Linked DNA regions of Homo sapiens. The protein of the gene in region 2 interacts with the protein of the main gene of each other region in a pairwise test. Each region holds a gene or a part of one and is shown on either strand. Other genes may lie near its edges.

Region 1 (8,626 bases), on a different chromosome or scaffold from region 2:
GTACACACACACACACACACACACACACACACACACACACACACACTGAGCCATCCTTACAAACTCTTGCAATAGAGCCTGACATAACCAAACAGGCAGGTCCCTAGCACACTGCAGAGTAGTATGTGACAAGATTCTGGCCATCCCAGAGACAGAGATACCATCTATATGGGGCAAAGAGATATGTCTGACATAATTGTACACAGGCAGAAGGACTTTTATGTCCTTTTCCAGTTAACTGACACCATATGCGATTGGCTCCCTATGTCTAGCCCTTAAGTACAAAATACTATAATCCCTATGGGTGATTCTGTGATGTGGCCCTGTTCTCTCAACCACACATCGAATAATATACTTGCTTACTTTAAGACACTTTCTGAAACTTGGCCTAAGGAGACCATGGGACTAAACCTGTAGTCTCTCCTCACTTACATCTGCATGGTTCAGGCCCTCTCCTCCATATACACCATCACGTCTTCAAAACAAGTAGCCTCTAAATAAAAGTGTGTTTCTGCCATATCTAGGGTATATCTATAAATACCATGTGCTACCTGGACATTTTCTGTTCCAATCTAGTGGCACAGTGCATGCCTGCCTCTGCAAGCCCATTGACACCGTTTCTAACTGTCTTTTTTCATTTGGAAATATCAGTGGTCACCTGCTCAGCCACCAGTTACCGCAAAGGGAGAACATACCCCACGTTCCCTATACTTGATCCTATCTCAGTGATCCCGTTGCAATCAGGCATGACAAAGCTAAAATGTGACAAAGTGAAAGGAAATCTGTAAATCATGGTCTTACTCACGTAAAGGCATCAGGAGAGAGTTTTTTGCAATGCTCATTACGTTAGAGTGCAAACATCCTCATCTCCTTCTCCACTGAGGGTGAATAATCACTGTTTATCTGTGTACAGGCAAAGCCAGGGCATGGGATTATGGGGATACGGCCTTGCTTCAGACCACAGACATTCTGCATCCACATAACCTCACCCACGTGTGACTTCTTGAGAGGCAAAGCTTCAAGTCATCCCTTTAACATAATGTGTGACAGAGCTCACTATCTTCCCTAGAGCCCCCCCCAACACCTTAGCTCTTGTCTATTTCTAGTCACTAGAAACAACACTGTATTTCAAGGATACAACCCCTCCCCAATCAAACTGCCAAATCTTTGAACTGAGACTCAGTGCCATATATATATTTTTGAGGACCATGCTTCCTGGATTTTCTAGCAAGGTTGATTTCAAATATTCTGACTTACAAATCACTAAAATAATATTGAGGTTAAAATAAGATCACCACATAGATATATAACTTTATTCACTGTTTGACATCACTGCCCTCAATACTACAAAGATATCAAAACAGGGGTAGCTTTCTGGACCACTGACTACTACAGTGTGTGTTCTATCCATTGCAGGAAAGTCCCACCATGCCAGTGAAAGCTGTAATACACATTTATCTATTCTCTAATGTCTGAAAATGTCACACCAACTGCCTTATAGACCAGATAGTTTATATAAGAACATTATTAGTGTCAATGCTGACTTACACTCTACAATCTCATCTGTGGTCCTGGTGGCATACACACAGATAACATTAGTGTGAGTGACGTGTTTGTGTATTAACACAGACCTTGAGGGTGACTTTGTTCCAGTCTACCTTGCAGGCACTATAAGTGATCGGCTCCTGCTTACTCCACAGACACTGTGAGTGACCCAGCCCCTGTCTACACTAGAGCTGTTGGTCACCTGTTTGTCTACACCACTGACACTTGAGTAATGCTGCTCCCGTTGAACCCAAGACCCTACGAGTGACTCCATTCCTGTCCATACCACATAGCGACTGACCTCTCCAGACACCACAAATGACGTATTCCTGTCTATCCCACAGACACCACGTGTAACGTGGCCACGGAACCTCAGACAGACCGCGTTAAGGGCACTGATACACTCTCAGGACCTCTAATATATGAACACTCTTCTCTCTATTGAGAATCACTATATTCTGTTGATGAGAGGGATTCCTTTGCACTCCTCCTGATTTCTCTCTCCTCCCCACTAGGACCATGACATACATTCCTCCTGCATATCAGTCTCACCCAGAACTGACACGCCCTCATCCCATCTTCCCAGCTCCCCAGGACTCCTTCACTAGCCATGGCTTCACTTTTAGGCCCACAGATTGGTTAACAAATGACACCCATTTTGCTAAGGCCTATGCCAGGAACTTCTTCATGCTCCAAATGTGGATAAAACAAGACGTCTGAGACAGAGGCCACATCAAGAGCTTTTTAGCTGGAGCTGGGACCTCTGGATTAGGCCCAAGATGCAAGGCCAGACAGTGGAGTGCAGTAGGGGAGCAAGCTAGGGAGGAAGCTCGAAAGGAAAACCACCCTCTCTCATCTGTTTGACACACCCTTCTCTCTCAACCAGACAAGAGTCCTGGCCAGAGTTCACTTCTAGGTAGACAGGAGGGCAAATCTGTCTTTGGAACCCAAGATCCAGGAAGGGAAGAAAGGGACTGAGATCTGGAAATGACGTAGTATCACAACTGGCTCTCCTCCGGTAGTCTTGCCGGAAGGCAACTGCAAAAGATGCTCAGGGGTTCTAGAGCTCTGCGTCCGCATTCTAGCACCCCAACGCCTACCTCAGCCCCCAACTCTAAATAACTTCTTTCCACCTTGCTAAGAATGCAACGTTGTGATTCACATCAAGCTTTAGGAGGCTCCCCATATGTAGGGAACTGGGGTGAGGGGCAGGGCAGGATTCACTGTTCCAGGTTACGGAGCTTTGGTTAACACGGAGAGAAGCTACACATAGACTCACACAGTATGCAAATACCTATGGAGATACATAAGGAAAGGCCCCGGCCTGGTTAAGGAAAAGGAGCCGATAAAACCTCTCCAGGTAAGGAACAGCCTAGAAAGGGAATCTCAGTTATTCCTTCTGATATGGCTTAGCTTTCCCCAGGGCGCCTACTTTGAAGAAAGAGCCCTGATTATTGGCCCGGGGAACGTCTGGGGGCAGGGTGCCCATTTCCTAGGCGGGACCCGACCGGAAGCAAACTTGTAGGCAACAACATTTCCTCTAGTTCCTCTCCTCTTCCCCACCAGGGTCCTCAGCCACACACCCCGAGCCCTGCCTGCGGGCCCAGCCCCCCCATTTCCGGAGCCTGCGCCCCGGACCCAGCGGGGGCTGATCCCTGGGAAAGGCCTGGCTTCCTCTTCCTTCCTGTCCCTGCCCCACCTCCGCCGGGCTCCACAGCCGCCGGGAGCCCAGGGCCGAGACGGGAGGAGGGCACCCACCTGGTCGGTGTCACATGCTGCTTCGGCCCCAGCGTCCCCTCCAGGTCCCGGCGCCGGCCGCAGTCCCCAGAGCCGTCCCCAGCGCAGGCCCGGCCGCCCCACCCGCGGCCCGCCCCTGGCCGCCCGACGGGAGGGAGGGATCGGGTTCTCCTAGGAAGTTTCAGGTGAGGAAACAGGGACACACCTTCCCGGAGGAGGGGCAGGGCCCCTCCGCGCGCGAGCCCCATTGGTGTGAAAGAAGCTCCCGCGTCAGAGCTGGGAAGTGCCGGGCCGGCGGGGAGGGGAGCCCGGGCGCACGGGCCAGGCCGCGGGCTGTCCCAGGGAGCCCCGAGGGCGCGGTGCGCGGGCGCAGGTCGGGCGCAGGCGGGGTGACCCGGGGAAGGGGCGCGCACAGAGACAGAGGGAGCCAGCCGGGCCCCACGGTGTCCTCGGACGCCTCCGAAATCTCCCTGCGTGTTTGTTTCTTCGGAGCTTCACCGGAGCCTGACTCTGGAACCGGCCTGTCTGCCTGCTGCAGTCTGTATGTGTTTGTCTTTTGCCTTGGCCGTGCCTCTGGAAGTCTGACATCCGTGGTTGTACATGTGTCTTTATCTTCAGGCCTCATTGGTTTTTGGTTTGTTCGTTGTTGTTGTTGTTGTTGTTGATGTTGTTGTTGTTGTTGTTGTTGTTGTTGTTTCTGAGACGGAGTCTCGCCCTGTTGCCCAGGCTGGAGTGCAATGGCGCGATCTCGGCTCACTGCAACCTCCGTCTCCGGGTTCAAGAGATTCTCCTGCCTCAGCCTCCCGAGTAGCTGGGATTACAGGTCCGCGCCACCATGCCCGGCTAATTTTTGTATTTTTTAGTAGAGGCCGGGTTTCGCCATGTTGGCCAGGCTGGTCTGGAAACTCCTGACCTCAGGTGATGCACCCGCCTCGGCCTCCCAAAGTGCTGGGATTACAGGCGTGAGCCACCGCGCCCGGCCAAGGCCTCAGTGTTGATTTCTCTTCCGTGATGTCTCCTCCTATAGAATAAAGAGTGTCTCCTCCATCTCCTCCTCCGCCCCCTTCTTCGTTTCTCTCTCTCTCTCCCTCCCTCCTCCCCCCTCCCTGTCCCTCTCCCTGCCTCTTCCTCTCCCCTCTTCCTTCTCCTACTTAGGGCCTAGAAGTGTGCCTCTCTGAAAGGACATGCCCGTGTCCTTCTGTATTCCCGAGTTTATTTTAGAATGAGTGCGTATCTCAGGGTGTATGTTCCTTCTAGGGCCTGTGTGTGTGTGTGTGTGTGTGTGTGTGTGTGTGTATTTAAATCTCTAAGCCCATGTTTGTGTGTTTTCTTATGCCTGTATTTTTTTTTTTATTCTTTCAGGGAAACGTTGTGTTCTGTTAGTCTTGGAGGCCAAGGCTGAGTGGGTTTATCTCTGTGCCCCTCCAGTGACTTCAAAGAATGCCAAAAGTCTCTCGAGTGTGCCTGTGTGCACACACAGACACACACAAAGTAGGAATCCTTTACCTGGGGGACAGAGATTTCTGTTATTTTTGGTTGAATCTGACCACTCCCCAAAGCCATTCACTACTCCAGGGGTTTCCATGGTGACATAAGTCAAGTGAAATATTAATGGACTCCTTGCCTATTTTGCTCTTAGGAATGCCATGGTCTACAGCCCAAACAGCTTGGCTAGACCATTTCCAGATCACTGTGCCCATTGGCTGTTGCCAATGATCCTGGTTGAACGTGTTCACTAGTTATTTTGAGGTGGCTGTAGAATAGAATGTAATTAAGGAAGTATAGCCTCTTCTGTAATAGAGTCCTGAACAGCTTTATGTTAAAAAAGTGTGCTACTTCTGCCATGTTACTCTGAAGGATTAAGTCTTAAACAGTTCAGCAGTTTTCAGCCTACTCTAAGCTGCCATGGAGTGTATGGGAAACTATAGGAAAAATTGGGATTAAGACTCAAAAATCTGGATTAAGAAGGGCAGGCCTTGCATGTGTCCTAGGCTCAGCAAAAGGGTAAGAACTGGGAGTACAGAAAGGCAAAAAGTTCAAACTGGGACTGGCTCTACTTCTAGGCTGGAATACAAAACTCATTCCCAGGTATGAGAGGGTCCTTGATTTATACCGAGTGAGCAAAGTGAGTAAACTTCTGATCTAGGGCAGAAGCTGTTGACCTCTGGGTCGGGTGCGGTGACTCACAACTGTAATCCCAGCACATTGGGAGGCCTTGGCCGGTGGATCACCTGAGTTCAGGAATTTGAGGCCAGCCTGGCCAAACATGGCGAAACCCCTTCTCTACTGAAAATACAAAAATTAGCTGGGCTTGGTGGTGGGCACGTATTCCCAGCTACTTGGGAGGCTGAGGCAGGAGAATTGCTTGAACCCAGGAGGCAGAGGCTGCAGTGAGCTGAGATTGCACCACTGCACTCCAGCCTGGGTGACAGAGTGAGACTCTGTCTAAAAAATACAAAAAAAAAAAAAATTGTTGACCTCTGGCATATTTCATGCTGCCTACTGGGGGTGGGCAATGGGGTCAGAGGTACCAGAACTGCCTCCTGAACCAGCCTGGCTATTCTTTCTGCTTCCCTCCAGCTTCAGTTGGTTCTCCTTGATTACAGCGCTCTCTCTCTCTCTCTCTCTCTCTCTCTCTCTTTTCTCATCAACTCGACCTCCTCTTGTTCTGCCAGCTCTGACTTGTCAGCATATTTTTTTTTGAAGTCACAACCCTGGATTCTTGTGCGCTTGTCCAGAGAGTTAGCACACAAGGCTTTTCCTGACTTTTCAACTAGTAGGAAAGTTACAACCGACCATTTAGGGAGTTTGCTCTTCCCATCAAGACTGTTCCTGTCTGCAGGGTGTATTTGCATGTGGAGGTCACTCTAGCTCTCCCAGGTATTCTTCCTTTCACTTTGCAGACTATGGTTCTCAGCATTTTATTATTTTTTTTCTTTTTCATTTCTTACTGCGTGGTCTTGGTGACTGGGTTTCTTAATCAAGCCTGTCATCCCATCCTGAGATTTTGATATTTTATTTGGGCCTATATTTCCTCTATAAAGGCCTAGAGAGGAGAGAGAATGATGCCATGGAAAGAGAATGAGATTTAGATTCAGACAGGGGTAAATTTGAATCCTGCATTCCATTTACTTAATGTGAAATCTTGGGCATATTCACCTTCCTGTGCTTTCTCTGAATCTTCCTACGTTTCATTTCCCTAATGTCTTAATTGGGGATAATAATATGTAATGATACCTACGTCACTGGATTGTTGTGGTGATTCAATACTGTAATATATAGAAATCACCTTAGTATAAGTACCTGATGTGTAAAGGTGGCCAAGATGGGTTAGTTTCCTTTCCTAGCAGTGCCTGTCAGTGATGCATGTGGAATGAATATGTTTATAAGAACAAAGTGATAGGGGCTGGGAACAGTAAATAGATTCAAAATAAAGCTATTTTAAAATGAAAGCCCTATTAGACGAGGCTGAATAAAAATAGCTTCTAGAACTTGGGACTACTTTAATTGACAATAATGCCTTTAAGATCAAGTTATGGGGCTTGGGGAGAGGCAGGGAACAATCTTGTATAGTTCTAGGTATCAGGACTAAAGGAATGACAATGACCTTTTTTGAAGCAGGAACTCATCAGCATTATCCCTAGGGCTGTCATTGTCCTGACTAGATACTGTCATGGTGCCACCATCCCACATGACTGGCTGCATTGTTCCCACGTGGTGAACTCTCTCTGACTCTCAGCTGGTCCAGTGCTAGTTCTTGGAACACTCCTAAGGCCTTTCTGCCTCTGCTTTTTGCCTGATCCTGTGACCCAACATTGAACCTTTCGAACTGATTTTGAACTCAGTTCTTCTTTTTTTTGAGATGGAGTCTCGCTCTGTCGCCAGGCTGGAGTGCAATGGCGTGATCTCGGCTCATGGCTACCTCTGCCTCCTGGGTTCAAGCGTTTCTCCTGCCTCAGCCTCCTGAGTAGCTGGGATGACAGGCATGTGCTGCCACACCCGGCTAATTTTTGTATGTTTAGTAGAGATGGGGTTTCACCATATTGGTCAGGCTGGTCTCGAACTCCTGACCTCATGATCTGCCTGCCTCGGCCTCCCAAAGTGCTGGGATTATAGGCATGAGCCACCGTTCCTGGCCCCAGTTCTTCTGTTAATGGGGCTGACCGTGGTCTCTCCATTCATCTCTGTTGAAGCCAGGCTGGCTTGACCACTGTGGTTCTTAGCTATCTTCTTCTATTCTGTTTTTTTGTTTTATTTTATTTTATTTTATTTTTCAGAGATGGAGTCTTGCTCTGTCCAGCCCAGGCTGGAGTGCAGTGGCACGATCTAGGCTCACTGCAACCTCTGCCTCCTAGGTTCAAGTGATTCTCTTGCCTCAGCCTCCCCAGTAGCTGGGATTACAGGTGCGCACCACCAAGCCTGGCTAATTTTGTGTTTTTAGTAGAGATGGGGTTTCACTATGTTGGCCAGGCTCATCTCAAACTATTGACCCCAAGTGATTGGGATTACAGGCGTGAGCCACTGCGCCCAGCCTATCCTCTTCTATTCTGATGAGCATGGTTTTATTTTCTATCCTTGGCTTCCCCTTATTTATTTTCTCAACCTTTACACATTGATTGGCATAGGCCTAAATTTAATGCCATTCAAGGCATACATACTAATTGCCTCATTCATTTTTTCTTCTATTCATTTACTCAGTATGCATTCTTAGAAACCAGATATACAAAGACAAGATCTCTGCTTTCAAGAAGCTCTCAATCTGATTGAGGAGAGAAACAGGTAGCAAATAATGGCAGCAGAGCATGGTAAGTGTTATGTTGAGATGGACACAAAGTACAATGGAAGCATAAAGGAGAGAGTAGGTGGCACTCCTTGGGGAATCAGAGAAGCCTGAATGGATAAGGTGGATTATATATATTTTTTTCTTTTTGAGATAGGGTCTCACTGTGTCACCTAGGCTGGAGTGTAGTGGCGCAATCATGGCTCACTGTAGCCTCAAACTCCTGGGTTTAGGTGATCCTCCCACCTCAGCCTCCTGGGGCTGGAACTAGAGATGTGTACCACCATGCACACCTGGCTAATTTTTGGTATATTTTTGTAAAGACAGAGTTTTGTCATGTTACCCAGGCTGGTCTCGAACTCCTTGACTCAAGCAATTCACTCACCTTGGCCTCCCAAAGTGCTGGGATTACAGGTGTGAGCCAACGTGCCCGGCGAAGGTGAGATTTGAGTTGACTTGTCTTTTAAAAATATTCTGTTACTGGCCGGCATGGTGGCTCATGCCTTTAATCCCAGCATTTTGGGAGGCCGAGGCGGGGGATCACGAGGCCAGGAGATTGAGACC
Region 2 (8,035 bases):
CAGACCTAGGGAATGAATGTCTATAGGGCTTGTATTTACTCATTCCACTCTCAGTCAGATTCACCCCCTATATACCCTTGGCTCAGGTGAAGAGCAGAGAAGTCCAAAGGGGAATGAAACCTCGCATCCCTCCCTTGTCTGCGACTATAGAATCAACCCCCTCAACCCAAGAAAGATGGCTAAGAGTAGAAAAGTCTACAAGCTCTTTGCAGGTGATATACTGACTGCGGCAGAAGACACCCAATAGCTGGGTGGAGTCTTGATCTCCAACCGATTCTGTGACCTACGAATCAGTCACATCACCTCCCAGAGTCTCAGTACTCCCATCTAGAAATGGGGATTAATACTTCCTATACAACCTTTCTCAAAGGCCTGACCTAAGGATAATACCATACCAAATGTGAATATTTATTGTCATCTATAAAGCATTGTGCAAAGATAAATTAGTATTGATCGCAAATAACAGTAGTTTCTAATAATAAAGAATTCCTACGACTTGCGTTCCAGATTAACCATCCAAGTGGAGGCACTTGGAGGATGACTGATAAGCACACTAAACGCCATAATGAGAAAGATAACGTGTGCCCACTGTGCATTCTGAAAAGCCCTGAGTATGGGCATGCCAGAGGTCCGGAAGTACCCTCACATGCCTGTGAAGAAACACCGGGGTCCACAAGGAAGGGAACATCCCTATGAGTCATGAGTTGCAGTTTGCTGTTCCCAGTCAACAAGCTACAGCAATCACTATGGACATTTCTTATATTGCCCTAGGATAGGTCTTAAGGAATGTAGAAAAACTTGCCCTACATCCCTCTGCCACATAAGGAGATAAGATCAAAATTTTCTGGACTCCAGAAAATGATAAAGTATAACTCAATGGATTTTTAAAAATCATAAAGAGACAAGGTTAGAAAGTGCTAATTTCTCAGAGACTGCAATAAAAAGCTTCACTGGGAAGAGCTCTTTTAAAGAGTGACTCAAGTCACATCACACTTAGTGAGCACCTACTATGTGCATGACCCCCTGGGTGCTGCAAAGATAAATAAGCCAGGTATTCTTTAAAGCATGGGAAAGAACAGGCTAAGGGCCACAAAAGGGACCAGGTATTAGGAGGAAACACAGGAAAGGTAAATTTTCTTCTTTTTTTTTTTTTTTTTGAGACAGAGTCTCCCTCTGTCGCCCAGGCTGGAGTACAGTGACGCGATCTAGGCTCACTGCAAGCTCCGCCTCCTGGGTTCACGCCATTCTCCTGCCTCAGCCTCCCAAGTAGCTGAGACTACAGCAGCTGGGATGACAGACGCCCACCACCACGCCCAGCTAATGTTTCGTATTTTTTTTTTAGTAGAGACGAGGTTTCACCGTGTTGGCCAGGATGGTCTCGATCTCCTGACCTCGTGATCCGCCCTCCTCGGCCTCCCAAAGTGCTGGGATTACAGGCATGAGCCACCACGCCGGGCCAAATTTTCTTCTTCTCAAAGACATATAGGAAGGCTTCATGAGTCAAGTGGCATTTGAGCTGGGAGAAAAAAATAAAGCGGACATAAGGTGTCAGAAGGTCATCTGTAGAACCTGGGACATTTAATTGTTTCTGTGACATGGATCCTCTCGACAGACTGTAGAAGCCTATAGATCCCTGCAGAGAATAGCATATTTAAGTGAATATGATAACATCACACAGGATTTCCAAGAAAATCAGTATTAAAATACAAAATGCGGCCGGGCACGGTGGCTCACGCCTGTAATCCCAGCACTTTGGGAGGCCAAGGCAGGCAGATCACGAGGTCGGGAGATCGAGACCATCCTGGCCAACACAGTGAAACCCAGTCTCTACTAAAAATACAAAAAAATTAGCCAAGCATGGTGGCGGGCGCCTGTAGTCCCAGCTACTCGGGAGGCTGAGGCAGGAGAATGGTGTGAACCCGGGAGGCGGAGCTTGCAGTGAGCCGAGATCGCACCACTGCACTCCAGCCTGGGTGACAGAGCGAGACTCTGTCTCAAAAAAAAAAAATAAAAAATAAAAAAATAATAATAAATGCCTTTTTAAAGTAAATTTGTGATAGAGTACCCTATGTGATTATTAGTGCCTTAAATAATAAAATCTAGCAGCAAGTCTAATATCCACCATAATTTCAAAGCAGCAGTAAACATTTTTTGAGATATCTGCAACAACTGTAATGTGAAATAAAAATGCCTGGGATTTCTATTGGCAACAAAAACATACGAACCACTAATAACACTATGGTTTCCCATCTATATTTATAATGAAAGAAAATGCTATATTTAAGTTAGAGGTTAATACAAATAAAGATGTCCTTTTTTCCCCACTCAAGTTCACAGGTTCCATGCTGTTTCCATGGACCCAGGTTAGGGAACTCTGATGAAGAGCCTCGGCCAGACACGGTGGCTCACGCCTGTAATCCCAGCACTTTGGAAGGCCGAGGTGGGTGCATCACTCGAGGTCAGGAGTTCAAGACCAGCCTGGCCAACATGGCGAAACCCCATCTCTACTAAAAATACAAAAAATTAGCTAGGCATGGTGGCACGCACCTGTAATCCCAGCTACTCCAGAGGCTGAGGCAGGAGAATCACTGGAACCCGGGAAGCGGAGGTTGCAGTGAGCCAAGATTGAGATCGGCCACTGCTCTCCAGCCTGAGTGACAGAGCAAGACTCTGTCTCAAAAAAAAAAAAAAAAAAAAAAAAAAAGAAAGAGAGAGAGAGAGAGAAAAGAGCCTAAGAGCCTAAGCAAAGAAAGAAAGTGAGAAATTGGGGTGTATGTTACATGACAATGTAGAACATGCAGAGACAGGAGGCGGCATGGAAAGGTAGGTAAAATCCTCAGAAGATGGCAAATAAGGTAGGTAAAATCCTCGGAGGTCACCAATGTGAGAATTCATTACTCCCAATTATTAAATAATAGAATAGAGGTGGGGCGTGGTAGCTCATGCCTGTAATCCCAACACTTTGGGAGGCCAAGGTGGGAGAATCACTTGAGCCCAAGAGTTCAAGACCAGCCTGGGCAACAAGACCACCATCTCTACAAAAAAAAAAAAAAAAAAAAAATTTAAAAATTAACTAGGCATGGCTGTGCTCTCCTGTGGTCCCAGGTACTTGGGATGCTGAGGTAGGAGGATCGCTTGAGCCCAAGAGGTCAAGGCTACAGTGAGCCGTGATGGCATCATTGCACTCCAGCCTGGGCAACAGAGTGAGACCTGTCATTCATACATATATACATAAATAACAGAATGTGCTCTAAGTTCTAGAAATGCATCTTCTTTGGAATAAAAAGAGATGAATGAAAGAAGCTAGGAAAACATCATTCTACAAGTTTCAACTTATAGCTCCTCTTTAAAATGTAGAGGACAGCATATTGATAAATTTACTCCTAATAAAAGAGCATGGATCCCATACCATCCCTGTTATGTAAATGTACACATATGTCTGGGTATAAGCATATGTATAACACAGATGTTTAGAAGAAATGTGCATCAAAATATTAATGGTGATTCAAGTTTAGGAGTGATTTTACTTTTTCCTTTGCATTTTCTATCATTGGAAAACGGGCAGAATTAGGCCCAACATAGGTTAGGAGACTTAGGGTAAAACACATACCACATAGTACAAAACAGAGCTGGTACAAGAACTCAGAAATTCCCTTTTCTCTTACTATATAAAAACTTTCAGATTCAGAATTGAATGCACCTGAACACATGAAGTACATATAATGATTAAGCCCAACTTATATATTTAGAAACTGAGGCTTAAAGTCTGAGTGACTTGCCCAACGTCACACAGCAAATGTTAATAACTGGAGATTCAGAGGTAAAATCTGGGTCTCTTGGTCCTGAGTGCAGAATATTGTCCTTGTTAAAAGCCAGGGTTTTGTATTCATCCTGACCCAGGTTAAGTCCCACCTATGCCACTCACTTGCTGGTAAACTTGGATGAATTCCTATATTTTTCTAATTCTAGGGTTCACCACAGTTTTTTTTTTTTAACCTCAAAGTGTAATGGTGATGATTAAATGATACAGTAAAGTCCTATTAAAACCTGTGACATAGTAAACACCCTTGTCTCACTCACTATGCCTTTTTGTCTCTGTCCCAGGTGGAAGAACTCCACTATTACTTTCCAGGAGCAGACAGACATTATCTGCTCATTAGGCTCAGCAGCTTGGTTCTAGTCTCAAAAGTCAACTGGGATCATGCTCACTGTGCCTAGAACAGAGAATGCAGAACATCAAGCCTAACACAGGACAGGATGTTGACATGCTGAGCAGCTTGTTGGGGGATCTCTAGGGAATTCGGATTCAATAGGTCTGAATGGGACCAGAGATTTTGAATTGTTAGAATCTAATATTTCTGTGAATTAAAAAGGGGCTCAGCCTAACTGTGAGCAATGTATTATCCAATGAGTGGCATGACAAGGAATGACAGGAAGACCCAGGACTGTCGACAGTTCTAGGCCTCTTCTCTCAAGGACGAAGGGCAGCCACTGCCCAGAACCATGGAGGGGGAATTGAAACCAATCCAAACTAGCACAAAAATGAATGTTTGGAGAGATCCCCTGCCCTGGATACATAATGTTCTCAGAGATAGAACAAACTTCCGAGATGATCCTGTGCACTCTACAGATGCAGCACATAGTGAATACAACTCTCGGGAACTTTCCAAGCACATGGAGGCCCATAAAACACCAACGCACCATAAATTTCCATGGTAAATCCTGCTGGGGGAATTCATTAACAGAAAAGTAGCAATCAAACACTGGAAAGGTAGGGCTTCAAAATTACCCACTCTGGAGATGTAGAAAGTGCCTAAAAATATGGTAGGTCCAGGAGCACCACACCAAGCATTTACATCTTTGAAATGGCCACATGGCACTTATTGGCCTGAAAGGAGAAACAGCCAGCAAAATATCCTGCTAGAGTTGGTGGGCAAAGGAAACAGGGGAGGGGTCCCTGAAGGCCCTTATGAATTTCTCAAAGTTTTTGTTCACCATTTTATCTTCAGAACCCTGCACGCTGATTGGCAAACACTATTACATTCATTAAGTATTTGTCAAATGCGTGAAAAAAACAGAGGGAGAGAAAGAGGGACAGAGACAGGAAGACAAAAAGAAATTATCTCAGGCGGGGCATGGTGGCTTACGCCTGTAATCCCAGCACTTTGGGAGGCCGAGGTGGGTGGATCACCTGAGGTCAGGAGTTCTAGACCAGCCTTGGCCAACAACATGGTGAAACCCCATCTCTACTAAAAATACAAAAATTGGCCAGGTGTGGTAGCGGGCGCCTGTAATCCCAGCTACTCGGGAGGCTGAGGCAGGAGAATCACTTGAACCCAGGAGGCAGAGGTTGCAGTGAGCCAAGATCATGCCACTGCACTCCAGCCTGGGCAACAAGGGCAAAACTGTATCTCAAAAAAAAAAGAAAAAAGAAAAAAAGAAATTATCTTTGCTCCTACAGACTAGGCAGGCTACTGAGTATAGTATGTCTCACCCAAAAGTGATGGAAACTGATTGCTACTACAGTAAAAGGAACATGAGCTTCTGAGTCAGGAATAACTGGATTCAGTCTCCAACTCTGAATGATCTTGGCCTAAGTTCTTGACTTCTTTCTTTGAGCCTCACCATTTCATCTTTAAAAAGGGTAACAACACCTATTTCACTTCCAAAATAGGCATGATACTTATGCTTACAAAGTTGTGGAAAAAAGATTACATGAGCTAATGGACTTAGGCAAAGTAGCTAGCACAATGGTCAGCACATGGTATGAGCCAAAATCCTCCTGGGCTACCCTAATTGTACTGCATAGTTCTTTCAGATGTCAAGCTGCAGAAATAATTCCAATTTAAGTTCACTGGATCTTCTAAGAAAGTATATTTTTATCCCAGCACTCTGGGAGGTCAAAGCAGGAGGATTGCTTGAACTCAGGGGTGTGAGACCAGCCTGGGCAACATGGCGAAACCCTGTCTCTACCAAAAATACAAAAAACTAGCCAGGCGTGGTGTTACACGCCTGCACTCCTAGCTACTTGGGAGGCTGGGGTGGGAGGATCACTTGGAGCCCAGGAAGTAGAGGTTGCAGTGAGCTGAGACTGTACCACTGCACTCTAGCCTAGGTGACAGAGCGAGACCCTGTCTCAAATAAATAAATAAACAAACATTTATTTAAATAATAAACTCACGTATATATTCTTTTTTAGTTAGCAAAGTAATTTCACATTCTGACATAACAGTTCTGAAAAACAATGCTTACTGTTATCCATGTTTAATAAATGAAAAAACTGGCCAGGCATGGTGGCTCATGCCTGTAATACCAGCACTTTGGGAGGCCAAGCCAGAAGGATCACTTGAGGCCAGGATTTTGAGACCAGCCTGGGCAACATAGTGAGACTCCATCTACACAAAAATTTTAAAAAATAAAAAATTAGCTGGGCACGGTGGTACACATCTCTAGTCCTAGCCACTAGGGAGGCTGAGACAGGAAGATAGCTTACGCCTAGGACTTTGAGGCTGCGGTGAGCCATGATCATACTATTGCACTCCAGGCTGGGCAACGGAGCAAGATCCTGTCTCAAAAAAAGAGAGAGAAAATACTAAGACCACAAAGCCAACAAGAGGCAGACTGGGAATGAAACTATAGATTTTAACATTTTATTATAATTACTATGATTTTCTCAATCAAAAATTCAAATAGGAGATCTTATTATAGAATACTTGAACTCAGACTGTTCCAGAAATCTACTTATATTACGCTAAAACTTATAGCTAAAATCGAAACAAAATCCTGAAAGAAGTGATTTTTTAAAACAAAGCCTTTCCTCTGGATTTTATGCATCTATTCTTAATAGTCTCAAGTAGGAGAAGAGGAACATGTTTTAGAGTAAGGCTGACCTGAGTTTCAGTAGCATCTCTACCATCTATTAGCTTTGTGACCCTGGATATCCACTTTCTTCACCCCACTAAATTTCAATATCTTCATCTATGTAATGGGAAAGCAATACCTCCTCAAAAGTCTATGTGAAGTTCCTGGCCCTGAGAAGATGATTAGTAAATGATTAACTACCGTAAAAATCATGCCATGGTACCGACCACTTGGTCTGTAGGTTAGGTGACGGCTTGTTTCTTTCCTGCCTTCTCCAGCATCTGCATACCCCCTTTTCTGCATCTGTTCAATGGGGACACAAACCAGTCTCTATCGAACCTCACCAGGGAATGAAGATAACAAAAGAGCTGGCAGAGACATTATGCTAATACCAAATATTATTAAAACATTAATGAACTCTGGCAATTTCCCTGAATTTTGATAAATGGTGTTTATTATGCACTGCCAGCCTTTCGCACAGTCTGGGCTCTCAAATATTAACTAGATAATAACACCAATCATTCTCCTAAAAGACCAAGGTACAGAGGAATAAGAAGTGAATCTAGACAATTGCAGCTAACACCTGCCTCCAAAAAAAAATCAGAATCTCTGTACAAACAGAGAGCATCAGGACAGACCCCAGAGACCACAGTGACCACCAGCAAGCTCAGATCAACCCCACAGCCTGTGCAGAACCCTACTTTGATAAGACAGTGGAGTGTCTTGGTGTTGACAGGTCATTGATTATGACAGCTGTCTACCACCTCCTTGCTCTTCAGTGTAAAATTCCTCCAAACTAGACAAAATGAAAAGGATCTGTGAAGCTGGAGGGGCTTCAGACTTGGCTAACAATCTTACACAAAAAGAGAGTAACATGCCTCACCCCTGCCAACTGCCTGAAACATGAGGCAGTATTTTTCTCAGCTCCACTAAAGAGGCTTGCACCCAATTCGTGGTTGGCCACTTCATTCTGTGTGAGGGGATAATATCTGTAAGCTGCTAACAATCCCCAGGTGCAGCTCAGATACAGAACAAAGCCAAGAGGACTGGCCACCCTCCACCCCCCCGCCCTGAAATGAGGGCCTGGTACCACCCAAGTAACACCTTAACAAGCTAGGGGTCATTAAGAGACTTCATTTGCATAGTCATCAAAGAACCAAAGCTATGGCAAGTG
Region 3 (8,035 bases), on a different chromosome or scaffold from region 2:
CTTATAAAATGGAAAACTTTAATTGTTTAAAGAAAAGGCACAAGTAAACATTTCAGGTTATCATACAATGTTACAATAAAAAATTCCAATAGCAAAATGAAACACATTATAACTTTGCTTCTTGGTAGTATACTGAATGTATTATTCTATCATCTCCTCTTTGGAGTAAAAAGAAGGGATAGGCAGATCAATGGATGTGATGTAAAAACTTGGATCATAAATAGCATCCACTATACCTTTAACCAGAAATTAAACTTCAGTAGAATTAAAATTAATTTTTAAAACTTAGTTTTGTTAATAATAGAGCAGCAGTAACTTTCAAGCTAAAACTCATTGTTTTGGTAAGTAAATAACTGATTTCATGAAATGTTCGCTGTCAATGTCTGGTATGTTAATATACATTAATCAAGCTGGTCATGAAACAGTTTTACCAAAATATAATTCATATACTTATTTTACTTTAAACCTGAATATTACAGTACATTATATAAAAGATAAATGAGAATAAGGAACTAAATTATTTCTTACGATGTCAGAAATAATATACTTAAAAAGGTGTAGACCTTATTTTCAATCAAAGGCACTATCTGGAGAGTTAACAAGCTGCATCATGTTCAGAATTGAGAAAAAGTTTTTCTCCTTCCCAAATAACTGGCTGATTAGTAGAAACCTGTCATCTCAGCAAACACTGAATACCTAGTATCTAGCCAAAAAACAAACAAACAAACAAACAAACAAAAAAGACGGTGGGGGCAGAAATTGTGTAAAATTACATCTTTGACTTCTTTTCCCAGGATTTTTTTTTTTTTTAAAGAGACAGGGTCTTGCCATGTTGCCCAGGTTGGAGTGCAGTGGTTATTCTTTCACAGGTGTGATCATTACACACTACAGCCCCAAACTCCTGTACTCTAGTGATCCTCCTGCCTCAGCCTCTTGAGTAGGTGGGACTATAGGAGTGTGCCAATTTCTAAAAAGGCTGTTGAAGTGTTTTCTTGATCTAAAAGTGTCTGTTTCATTAACTCAATGCAATTTCCATTTTATTCACATCACTTGTATCCTCTACTCTCAGCTTGTCAACCCAGGATGGCAATGACACCAGGAAGGTAACTGTCCCAAGGGAGCAAGCTTTCTTATTATGAGTCATTTCATTCACTTTTCTCCCCTGAATATACTCAACTCTAAGTGTTTAACTTAATAACATTCAAATATCACAAAATGTCAGTAATTAAATAAAATTCATCGAGAACATTGTTCAATGCTTCAAAGTCTTGAACAACATACTTACATTAATTTGAATGAAAAGGAGTCAAACCAAGGCATAATATCCTATTGCATCCTAAAGGCCTGGGAGATTTTAAACTCTTCTAAGGTGTATTTGAATCAGATCTTCAAAGAAAAGAGTGTTATTTCTAGTTTTTTGTTGTCCAAATTACAAGAGTTTCAACGGATTAAGGTTTCCTTACCATGATTCTTTTAACACCTAATTCCTAATCAGAAATGGTACTTAAGAATATCAACGTTTAGAATTCAAACATGATTCTAGAAAATTTCTTATCTTAAAGTCAAACTATAACCTTTACTCAATAAAGCATACTCTTAAAGGTCTGTGATGCATGCTTTAAAGAACAGTGATGGGATTCTGGAGTTCTTTCCTTTCTTTCTCCTTCTCCAAAGATACAGATATCTTTCTACAGTTTTCTATGGAATAAGAGACTTCATCATATAAAATGGCTGGCATGTTTTCCCTTTTGAATAGTTCTGATTATAATATCCACCATGAAATTTTACGTTTCCAAATCATAAGCTTAATAGCAAAAGCAAACAATTTGACCTACCACTGAGCTAAATTGAAGAAGAAAAACCTGCATTTTAGAGTATCTGTTATCAAGGGTTAGCAAACTTTTTCTGTAAAGGATCAGATAAATATTTTAGGCTACCTGGGCCATATGGTCTCCCTTGCAATGACTCAACTCTGCTACTGTAGCACAAAGCGGCCATACACAATATTTAAAAGGGTGAGCATGGGTGTGCCCCAATAAAACTTTACTTATGGACACTGCAATTTGAATTTCATATAATTTTCATGTGACACAAAATATCAGTCTTTGGAATTTTTTTCCCAACTATTTAAAAAAGTAAAAACTGGCAGCTGACTGCAATAGCTTGTAGGCTGCACTTTGCTGACCCCTGGTCCAGATCATTCAGATTTCTTGATGTGAGGGTCAAAGCAATAATGTGGCCATGCATCATCTCACTTCACTTGGACATTGATAGCTTTCTGGGCTGATAGTATAGAACTCCGAACAAAAATCCCCAAAGCACAAGACAATCCTACGAGTAAGTAGTATCTACACTCACAGACTGTGTAGAGCTTGTAAGTGTTGATACTCATCTATCTATCTGTATATATATTCAGGAAACATTTAAATCAAATTCATTTAAATTATGTTGTCAAAAAAGCAGGGAATTGCCAGGTGTGGTGGCTTACGTCTAGTAATCCCAGCACTTTGGGAGGTCAAAGTGGGTGGATCACCTGAGGTCAGAAGTTTGAGATCAGCCTGGCCAACATAGCGAAACCCCATCTCTACTAAAAATACAAAAATTAGCCAGTTGTGGTGGCGTGCACCTGTAGTCCCAGCTACTTGGGAGCTGAGGCAGGAGAATCGCTTGAACCCGGGAGGTGGAGGTTGCAGTGAGCCAAGATCGTACCACTGCACTCCAGCCTGAGTGCAGTGAGACTTCATCTCAAAAAACAAAAATAAAAACAAAACAAAACAGAGAATTGAGAAATTCTTCAGCTGAACCCTTTCAAAAGCTTTGGTGTTAGGGAGATCTAGGTTAAAATCTTGGCTCTTGCTGGGAGCAGTAGCTCGCACCTGTAATCCCCACACTTTGGGAGGCTGAGGCAGGAGGACCACTTGAGGCCAGGAGTTCAAGACCAGCCTGGACAACACAGTGAGACACCTGTCTCTATATTAAAAAAAATCTTGGCTCTGCTACTTACTAGCTTGTAACCACAGATAAGTTATTTAACCACCAGAATTTAGCCTGGTGTTAAGGACAGACACGCAGGGGTATGTTTTCAATTTCATTTCTCAGGCAAGCAAATAGCTACAAAAACCTTGCTGGAAAGCCTAGTCCACAACGTACCTGAAGGCTTAACTCCTAGTTTTTGACAGAAAACTACTTTTATCTCTTCTACTCTATTTCATATTTTTTTTTTTGCCGCATGCAACATACTGTGCAAAACTGTGCCTCCATACATACTGAATTCTACTTTTCTCTTCCAAGGCTTTTTCCATAGGTTAACAAAATGTTTTTTTTTTCATAGGCTAACAAAAATGAGAGTAGAAAGTACCCAGTCAACATATTCATGTCGTCTTTCCATAGTGCAAGTATAATTTGGGTGTTTTCTCTAACTTATCAGTGACAGGCATCCTGTTTTCTAGGAAATAATATCTAAATGATATAGGAAAAACTGGTAGGAAAGGATTCTTATGGCTTTATCTATAGAACAAAAACTAGAGATTCTGAAGATCATGTTAATAGATTATTTGTAGATATAATTGCTATGTTTCTTGGACCTTAGCCCATTGCTTAAATTATATTCAGTAGAATATTAGCACTAACTAATATGTGCTATAACCTCTTCAGTCATGAAAAATTTAGTAGTTACATACACATGAAATAAAAGATTCCACCAACAGTGTTTTTGAACAGGCATCAGTTATGAATCTGCTAGTATTGAATGCTAAGCAAAATACTAAAGCTCTTAAAACATTAGTGTTTTATTTTTAACTTTTAACCTATTATTTACAGAAGTCCTGTTAGATGCTGAAAGCAGTCATTTTGCAACATGTATGTTCTTCATATAAAATGATGTTCAATGTTAGGTGGTACAGATTTATAAATATGTACAAACAAAACAGTATGTCTGTAGTTAACCTACTACTCTAGTAACCAACACATGGAAGCATCATATGCACATAAAAGTTAAACATTAAAACAAAACTTAAAACTCTCAAAACAGATAATCATGAATTTGTGTTTATAAAATTATATAGAATAAAGGCTTTGTGTGTGGGGACTTTCAGTGGCCCACCAATAATTTTCATGAAAAAATAAAAATAGAAAAAAAAAACCTCCCAGACACAAACAGACAAGGTAGGCTGGGTGCAGTGGCTCACACCTGTAATCCCAGCACTTTGGGAGGCTGAGGCGGGTGGATCACTTGAGGTTAGGAGTTCGAGACCAGCCCAGCCAACATGGTGAAACCCCATCTCTACTAAAAATACAAAAAATTAGCCAGGCGTGGTGGTGCGCACATATAGTCCCAGGTACTCGGGAGGCTGAGGCAGGAAAATTGCTTGAACCTGGGAGGCGGAGGTTGCAGTGAGCTAAGATCACACCACAGCACTCCAGCCTGGGTGACAGACTGAATCTCTGTCTTAAAAAAAAAAACAACAATAAAAAAAAAAACACAAGGTAAATCAGATGTATGTCTTGGTCAAATGTCTGTAGACAGCCACCTTGAGAACAAATTGATAAACATAAATACACAATTTGCTCACTGAGCATAAAATATTGCACAAGAGCAGTTTTGTCTGAAGAAAATTCAATTTTCCATAGTTTTGAACTTCAGAATGGTTCCCACATATAGATATAGTTGCATTTTCTAAACAAGAAACATTAATATTCAGTAATACTGTTAGAACCTTGTTTTACACATTAACCATATACCAGTCTACTTTATGGCAATGGTAAATCAGTGGTAAAGATTTGGCAAAGATAAAAAGGCAGATAAGACTGTAAAATATATATATATATATATATATATATATATATATATATATATATATATATATATATGTACATATGAAACAAATTATTTCCAAAAAGCCCTAATCATATGATAACTGATCCCTTAAATAAATCCATAGTCTAGGTCACAGTGATGGTCAGACAGTGGTTGAATACGACTCTCTTCTTCTCGGGGGCCGCTCCTTTTGAACCACTTGGTTGCTCTCTCTGGTCTCCAGCACACTGTCTTCTGTTTCGCTCTCACTACCATCTGCCACTGCGGGGTCCAAAGACATCGAACCAGATTTTCCGTGCAAAGGAAAACCAACACCAGTTTCCTGTAAGGAATTATCTATAAAATCTTCATCGGAGGAATGGAATGATTCATCATCTCCTATTAAATGGTTGACAATGTGGATTCCATCAAAAGGAGGTTGGCCTGAGAAGCCCCTCTGGCCTTTTAGGCACCTGAGCTGTTAAAACAAAATCCAAGTTAATACAGTCAAATGGGGGAAACACACACACGCCAAAAAGCAAACATTCCATGTTTAAGGAAGAAGATGCCTTATTATTTTTCTATTTACAGGTATAATCATAGTTACTAATTTTTGAGTGCCTTCTATGTGTTATATATAATGGGCTCATAATTATTTTTATTTTATTTTTTTTGAGACAGGTCTCAGTCTCACTTTGTCACCCAGGCTGGAGTGCAGTGGTGCGATCTCGGCTCACTGCAACCTCCGCCTCCCAGGCTTAAGCGATTCTCCCACCTCAGCCTCCTGAGTAGCTGGGACTACAGGCGTGTGTCACCATGCCTGGCTAATTTTTTTGTATTTTTTGTAGACACGGGGTTTCACCATGTTGCCCAGGCTGGTCTCAAACTCCTGGGCTCAAGCAATCTGCCTGCCTCAGTCTCCCAAAGTGTTGGGATTACAGGTGTGAGCCACCACACCTGGCCTGTAACTTACTTTAATTGAATAATAACAACCGTCCTATGTGATAGATTTTAGTATTTACTTTTCTCATTCTACAGATTAGGAAATGGAGACTCAGGAAGAGTAACTTGCTAAGGACATATATAGCTAGTAGCAAAGTTTAGATTCAAACTAAATCTTCATTATACTAGAGATAATATAATGGACTCCATGTACCCATCACCTAATTTCAACAAGTAACACCCATCATGGACAATCTTTTTACATTACACACCTCTTGTTCCTGGATAATTTTGAGGTAAACCCCAGACATCCTATCAGTTTATCTGTAAATATTTTGCTGGTATTTCTAGAAGGTATGAACTTAAAAACCATACTATCACACACACTATCTTGAGAGAATGTCTCCATAGTTCTGTAAATGATGAAAATGATTTATAAATCATTAAAACTTTGCTAAGAGTCTCCATCCTGTTATAATAGCCCAAAGGCCAGCATATCACCGTCACTTACTGTGGGAGAGGAATGCTGCTTCCCACTCATGAGGTTTCCTTCTGCATGGGGGGAGTGCCAGTCCGGTATAACATTTCTGCCTTCTCTCCCCAACTCCCCCTGGGGAGAAGGTGAGGCTTCTCTTAGTGGGGAGGAGGAGAGAGGAATGGTATGCCTCACTCATCTCTTTTCCCTTTCTTCCCATCTTTTAGAATGAGGCTCTAGTCCTCAATCCCTGGAGTTTTATAGTACAAGACCCTCACATAAGGAGGCTTAAGGAGGTCAAAAGCTACCTGTTACTGGGTGGGCAAGTCTGACTAATTCTAGAGTTTAGTATTGAAAAAATTGTGCCACATTTAAATCTAAACCACATTTTCCAAAACCAGTTTTATCAGAATTAAAACTGATTTATTTTCATCATCTGCCACTTCTTTGCTCAAGTTTCCTCAAACTCCCAAATCCACAACCATGACAGTACCAGTTCTACTCACATACAATTAAGTCATCAGCTCTGCCCTCAAGAGTTTATGTTTTAAAGTTTGATTTTGACATTCTGTCACTTATTTCATTTCTCTCATGCACCATGAATTTTCTCCTACAATAAAGTGGAAGAGTAAAAAACCAAAACCAAAAACAAGAATTAGCTACCAAATATCTACTCTGACTATTAAGAATCTTGCTAAAATATGCTCCACGTCTCCTACCCTCATCCTTGTTTCTCAGGGACAAACTCCTAGTCACAATCTTTCAATTCTTTAGATAAAGGCAATGTGAAATATTCAGGAAATATTACATACACTTTCAAAACTAACGGTCCTGAGAATAAAGACATTACAGCCTCACCATAATACCTCCCAGCTTTCCTGAAAGACTTCCAGGAAGAAGTGAAGAAACCTCAGCACTTCCCTGCTTGTATATGACAACAAGAATCAGCAGGGATGCAGGGACTCAGAACAATGATGTCTGGCCCAAGCAGACCTTCAACTATATTCCTGTGCCCTAGACCAAGTGGACAAATTTATAGTGAGGTACAACGTAATTTAAATAATACCATTCTCCTTGGCAGAACAGAGGGATCTATACTTGGAGTTGAATCTTTAGGAAAAGGGCATATAGCACCACAAAGGCCTCCTCAAGGTTATGATACCCACTGCATTGTTACAACTGCCACGTTCTGATGCAACATCCTATCGCAATATTGCAACACACAATTTATAGCTCCAAGTGTTAAATTAAGTCAGTTAATCTCTTCCTTTCTCTTTTTCCCCCAGACCTTTTTGAAGAAATCATATGGAACATGTGTCTTCCTTCTTCCTGGCTGTTATAAAGGAGGAGTATGGCAGAAGAACCACAACTTCCCAACTGTTTGGAAAGCTGCAGCTTTCCTTTGCTCTAACAAAATTTATTGCAATTAAAACACTGCAGCCTCATCATCAGATGTAATTATAGAAAATTAACTATAGGTTGAAGGGTCATTTCCTCAACATCAAAGGAATCTCATTGAGAGCTGTTAATATGGAATAGCAAACGTAAAGGAATTTATTGGTGGAGAGAAAAAATGGTGAAGGTAAGCGACTATGTGGTAAAACTGAAGCTATCCCTTGGTTATCTGTCCCTTAGACTTAGGTGTGTGCACACTGGATCTGATGAGGGAGGAGTCCTGTACTAGGTCTGGAAGTGGGCATTTGGGGAAGGAATTCCAGGGTACTGACTACCCAGAATATGTTCTAGAAGGGGCTGCATGAACTTCAGGTAGACATGTCTTCTGGGAGTCCTCATCCTGTGGAAAGGGGTTTGGCTAGAAGAAA

What was found.
Region 1: the proteins of MB21D2 (region 2) and ARHGEF5 interact in binary tests that used the Homo sapiens proteins (3 or more experiments, as listed by UniProt).
Region 3: the proteins of MB21D2 (region 2) and EVI5 interact in binary tests that used the Homo sapiens proteins (3 or more experiments, as listed by UniProt).

What each region holds. Positions count from the first base shown.
Region 1 is NC_000007.14:144,350,179-144,358,804, reverse strand, and holds the start of ARHGEF5 (rho guanine nucleotide exchange factor 5), read right to left. Parts: upstream 3,404-8,626; 5' UTR 3,304-3,403; exon of another isoform or gene 3,087-3,303; intron 1-3,086. UniProt on the Homo sapiens protein: Guanine nucleotide exchange factor which activates Rho GTPases. Strongly activates RHOA. Also strongly activates RHOB, weakly activates RHOC and RHOG and shows no effect on RHOD, RHOV, RHOQ or RAC1.
Region 2 is NC_000003.12:192,907,260-192,915,294, forward strand, and holds part of MB21D2 (nucleotidyltransferase MB21D2), read right to left. Parts: intron 1-8,035. UniProt on the Homo sapiens protein: Probable nucleotidyltransferase that catalyzes the formation of cyclic dinucleotide second messenger in response to some unknown stimulus.
Region 3 is NC_000001.11:92,508,698-92,516,732, forward strand, and holds part of EVI5 (ecotropic viral integration site 5 protein homolog), read right to left. Parts: intron 6,348-8,035; coding exon of another isoform or gene 6,249-6,347; intron 5,274-6,248; coding exon 4,959-5,273; 3' UTR 1-4,958. UniProt on the Homo sapiens protein: Functions as a regulator of cell cycle progression by stabilizing the FBXO5 protein and promoting cyclin-A accumulation during interphase. May play a role in cytokinesis.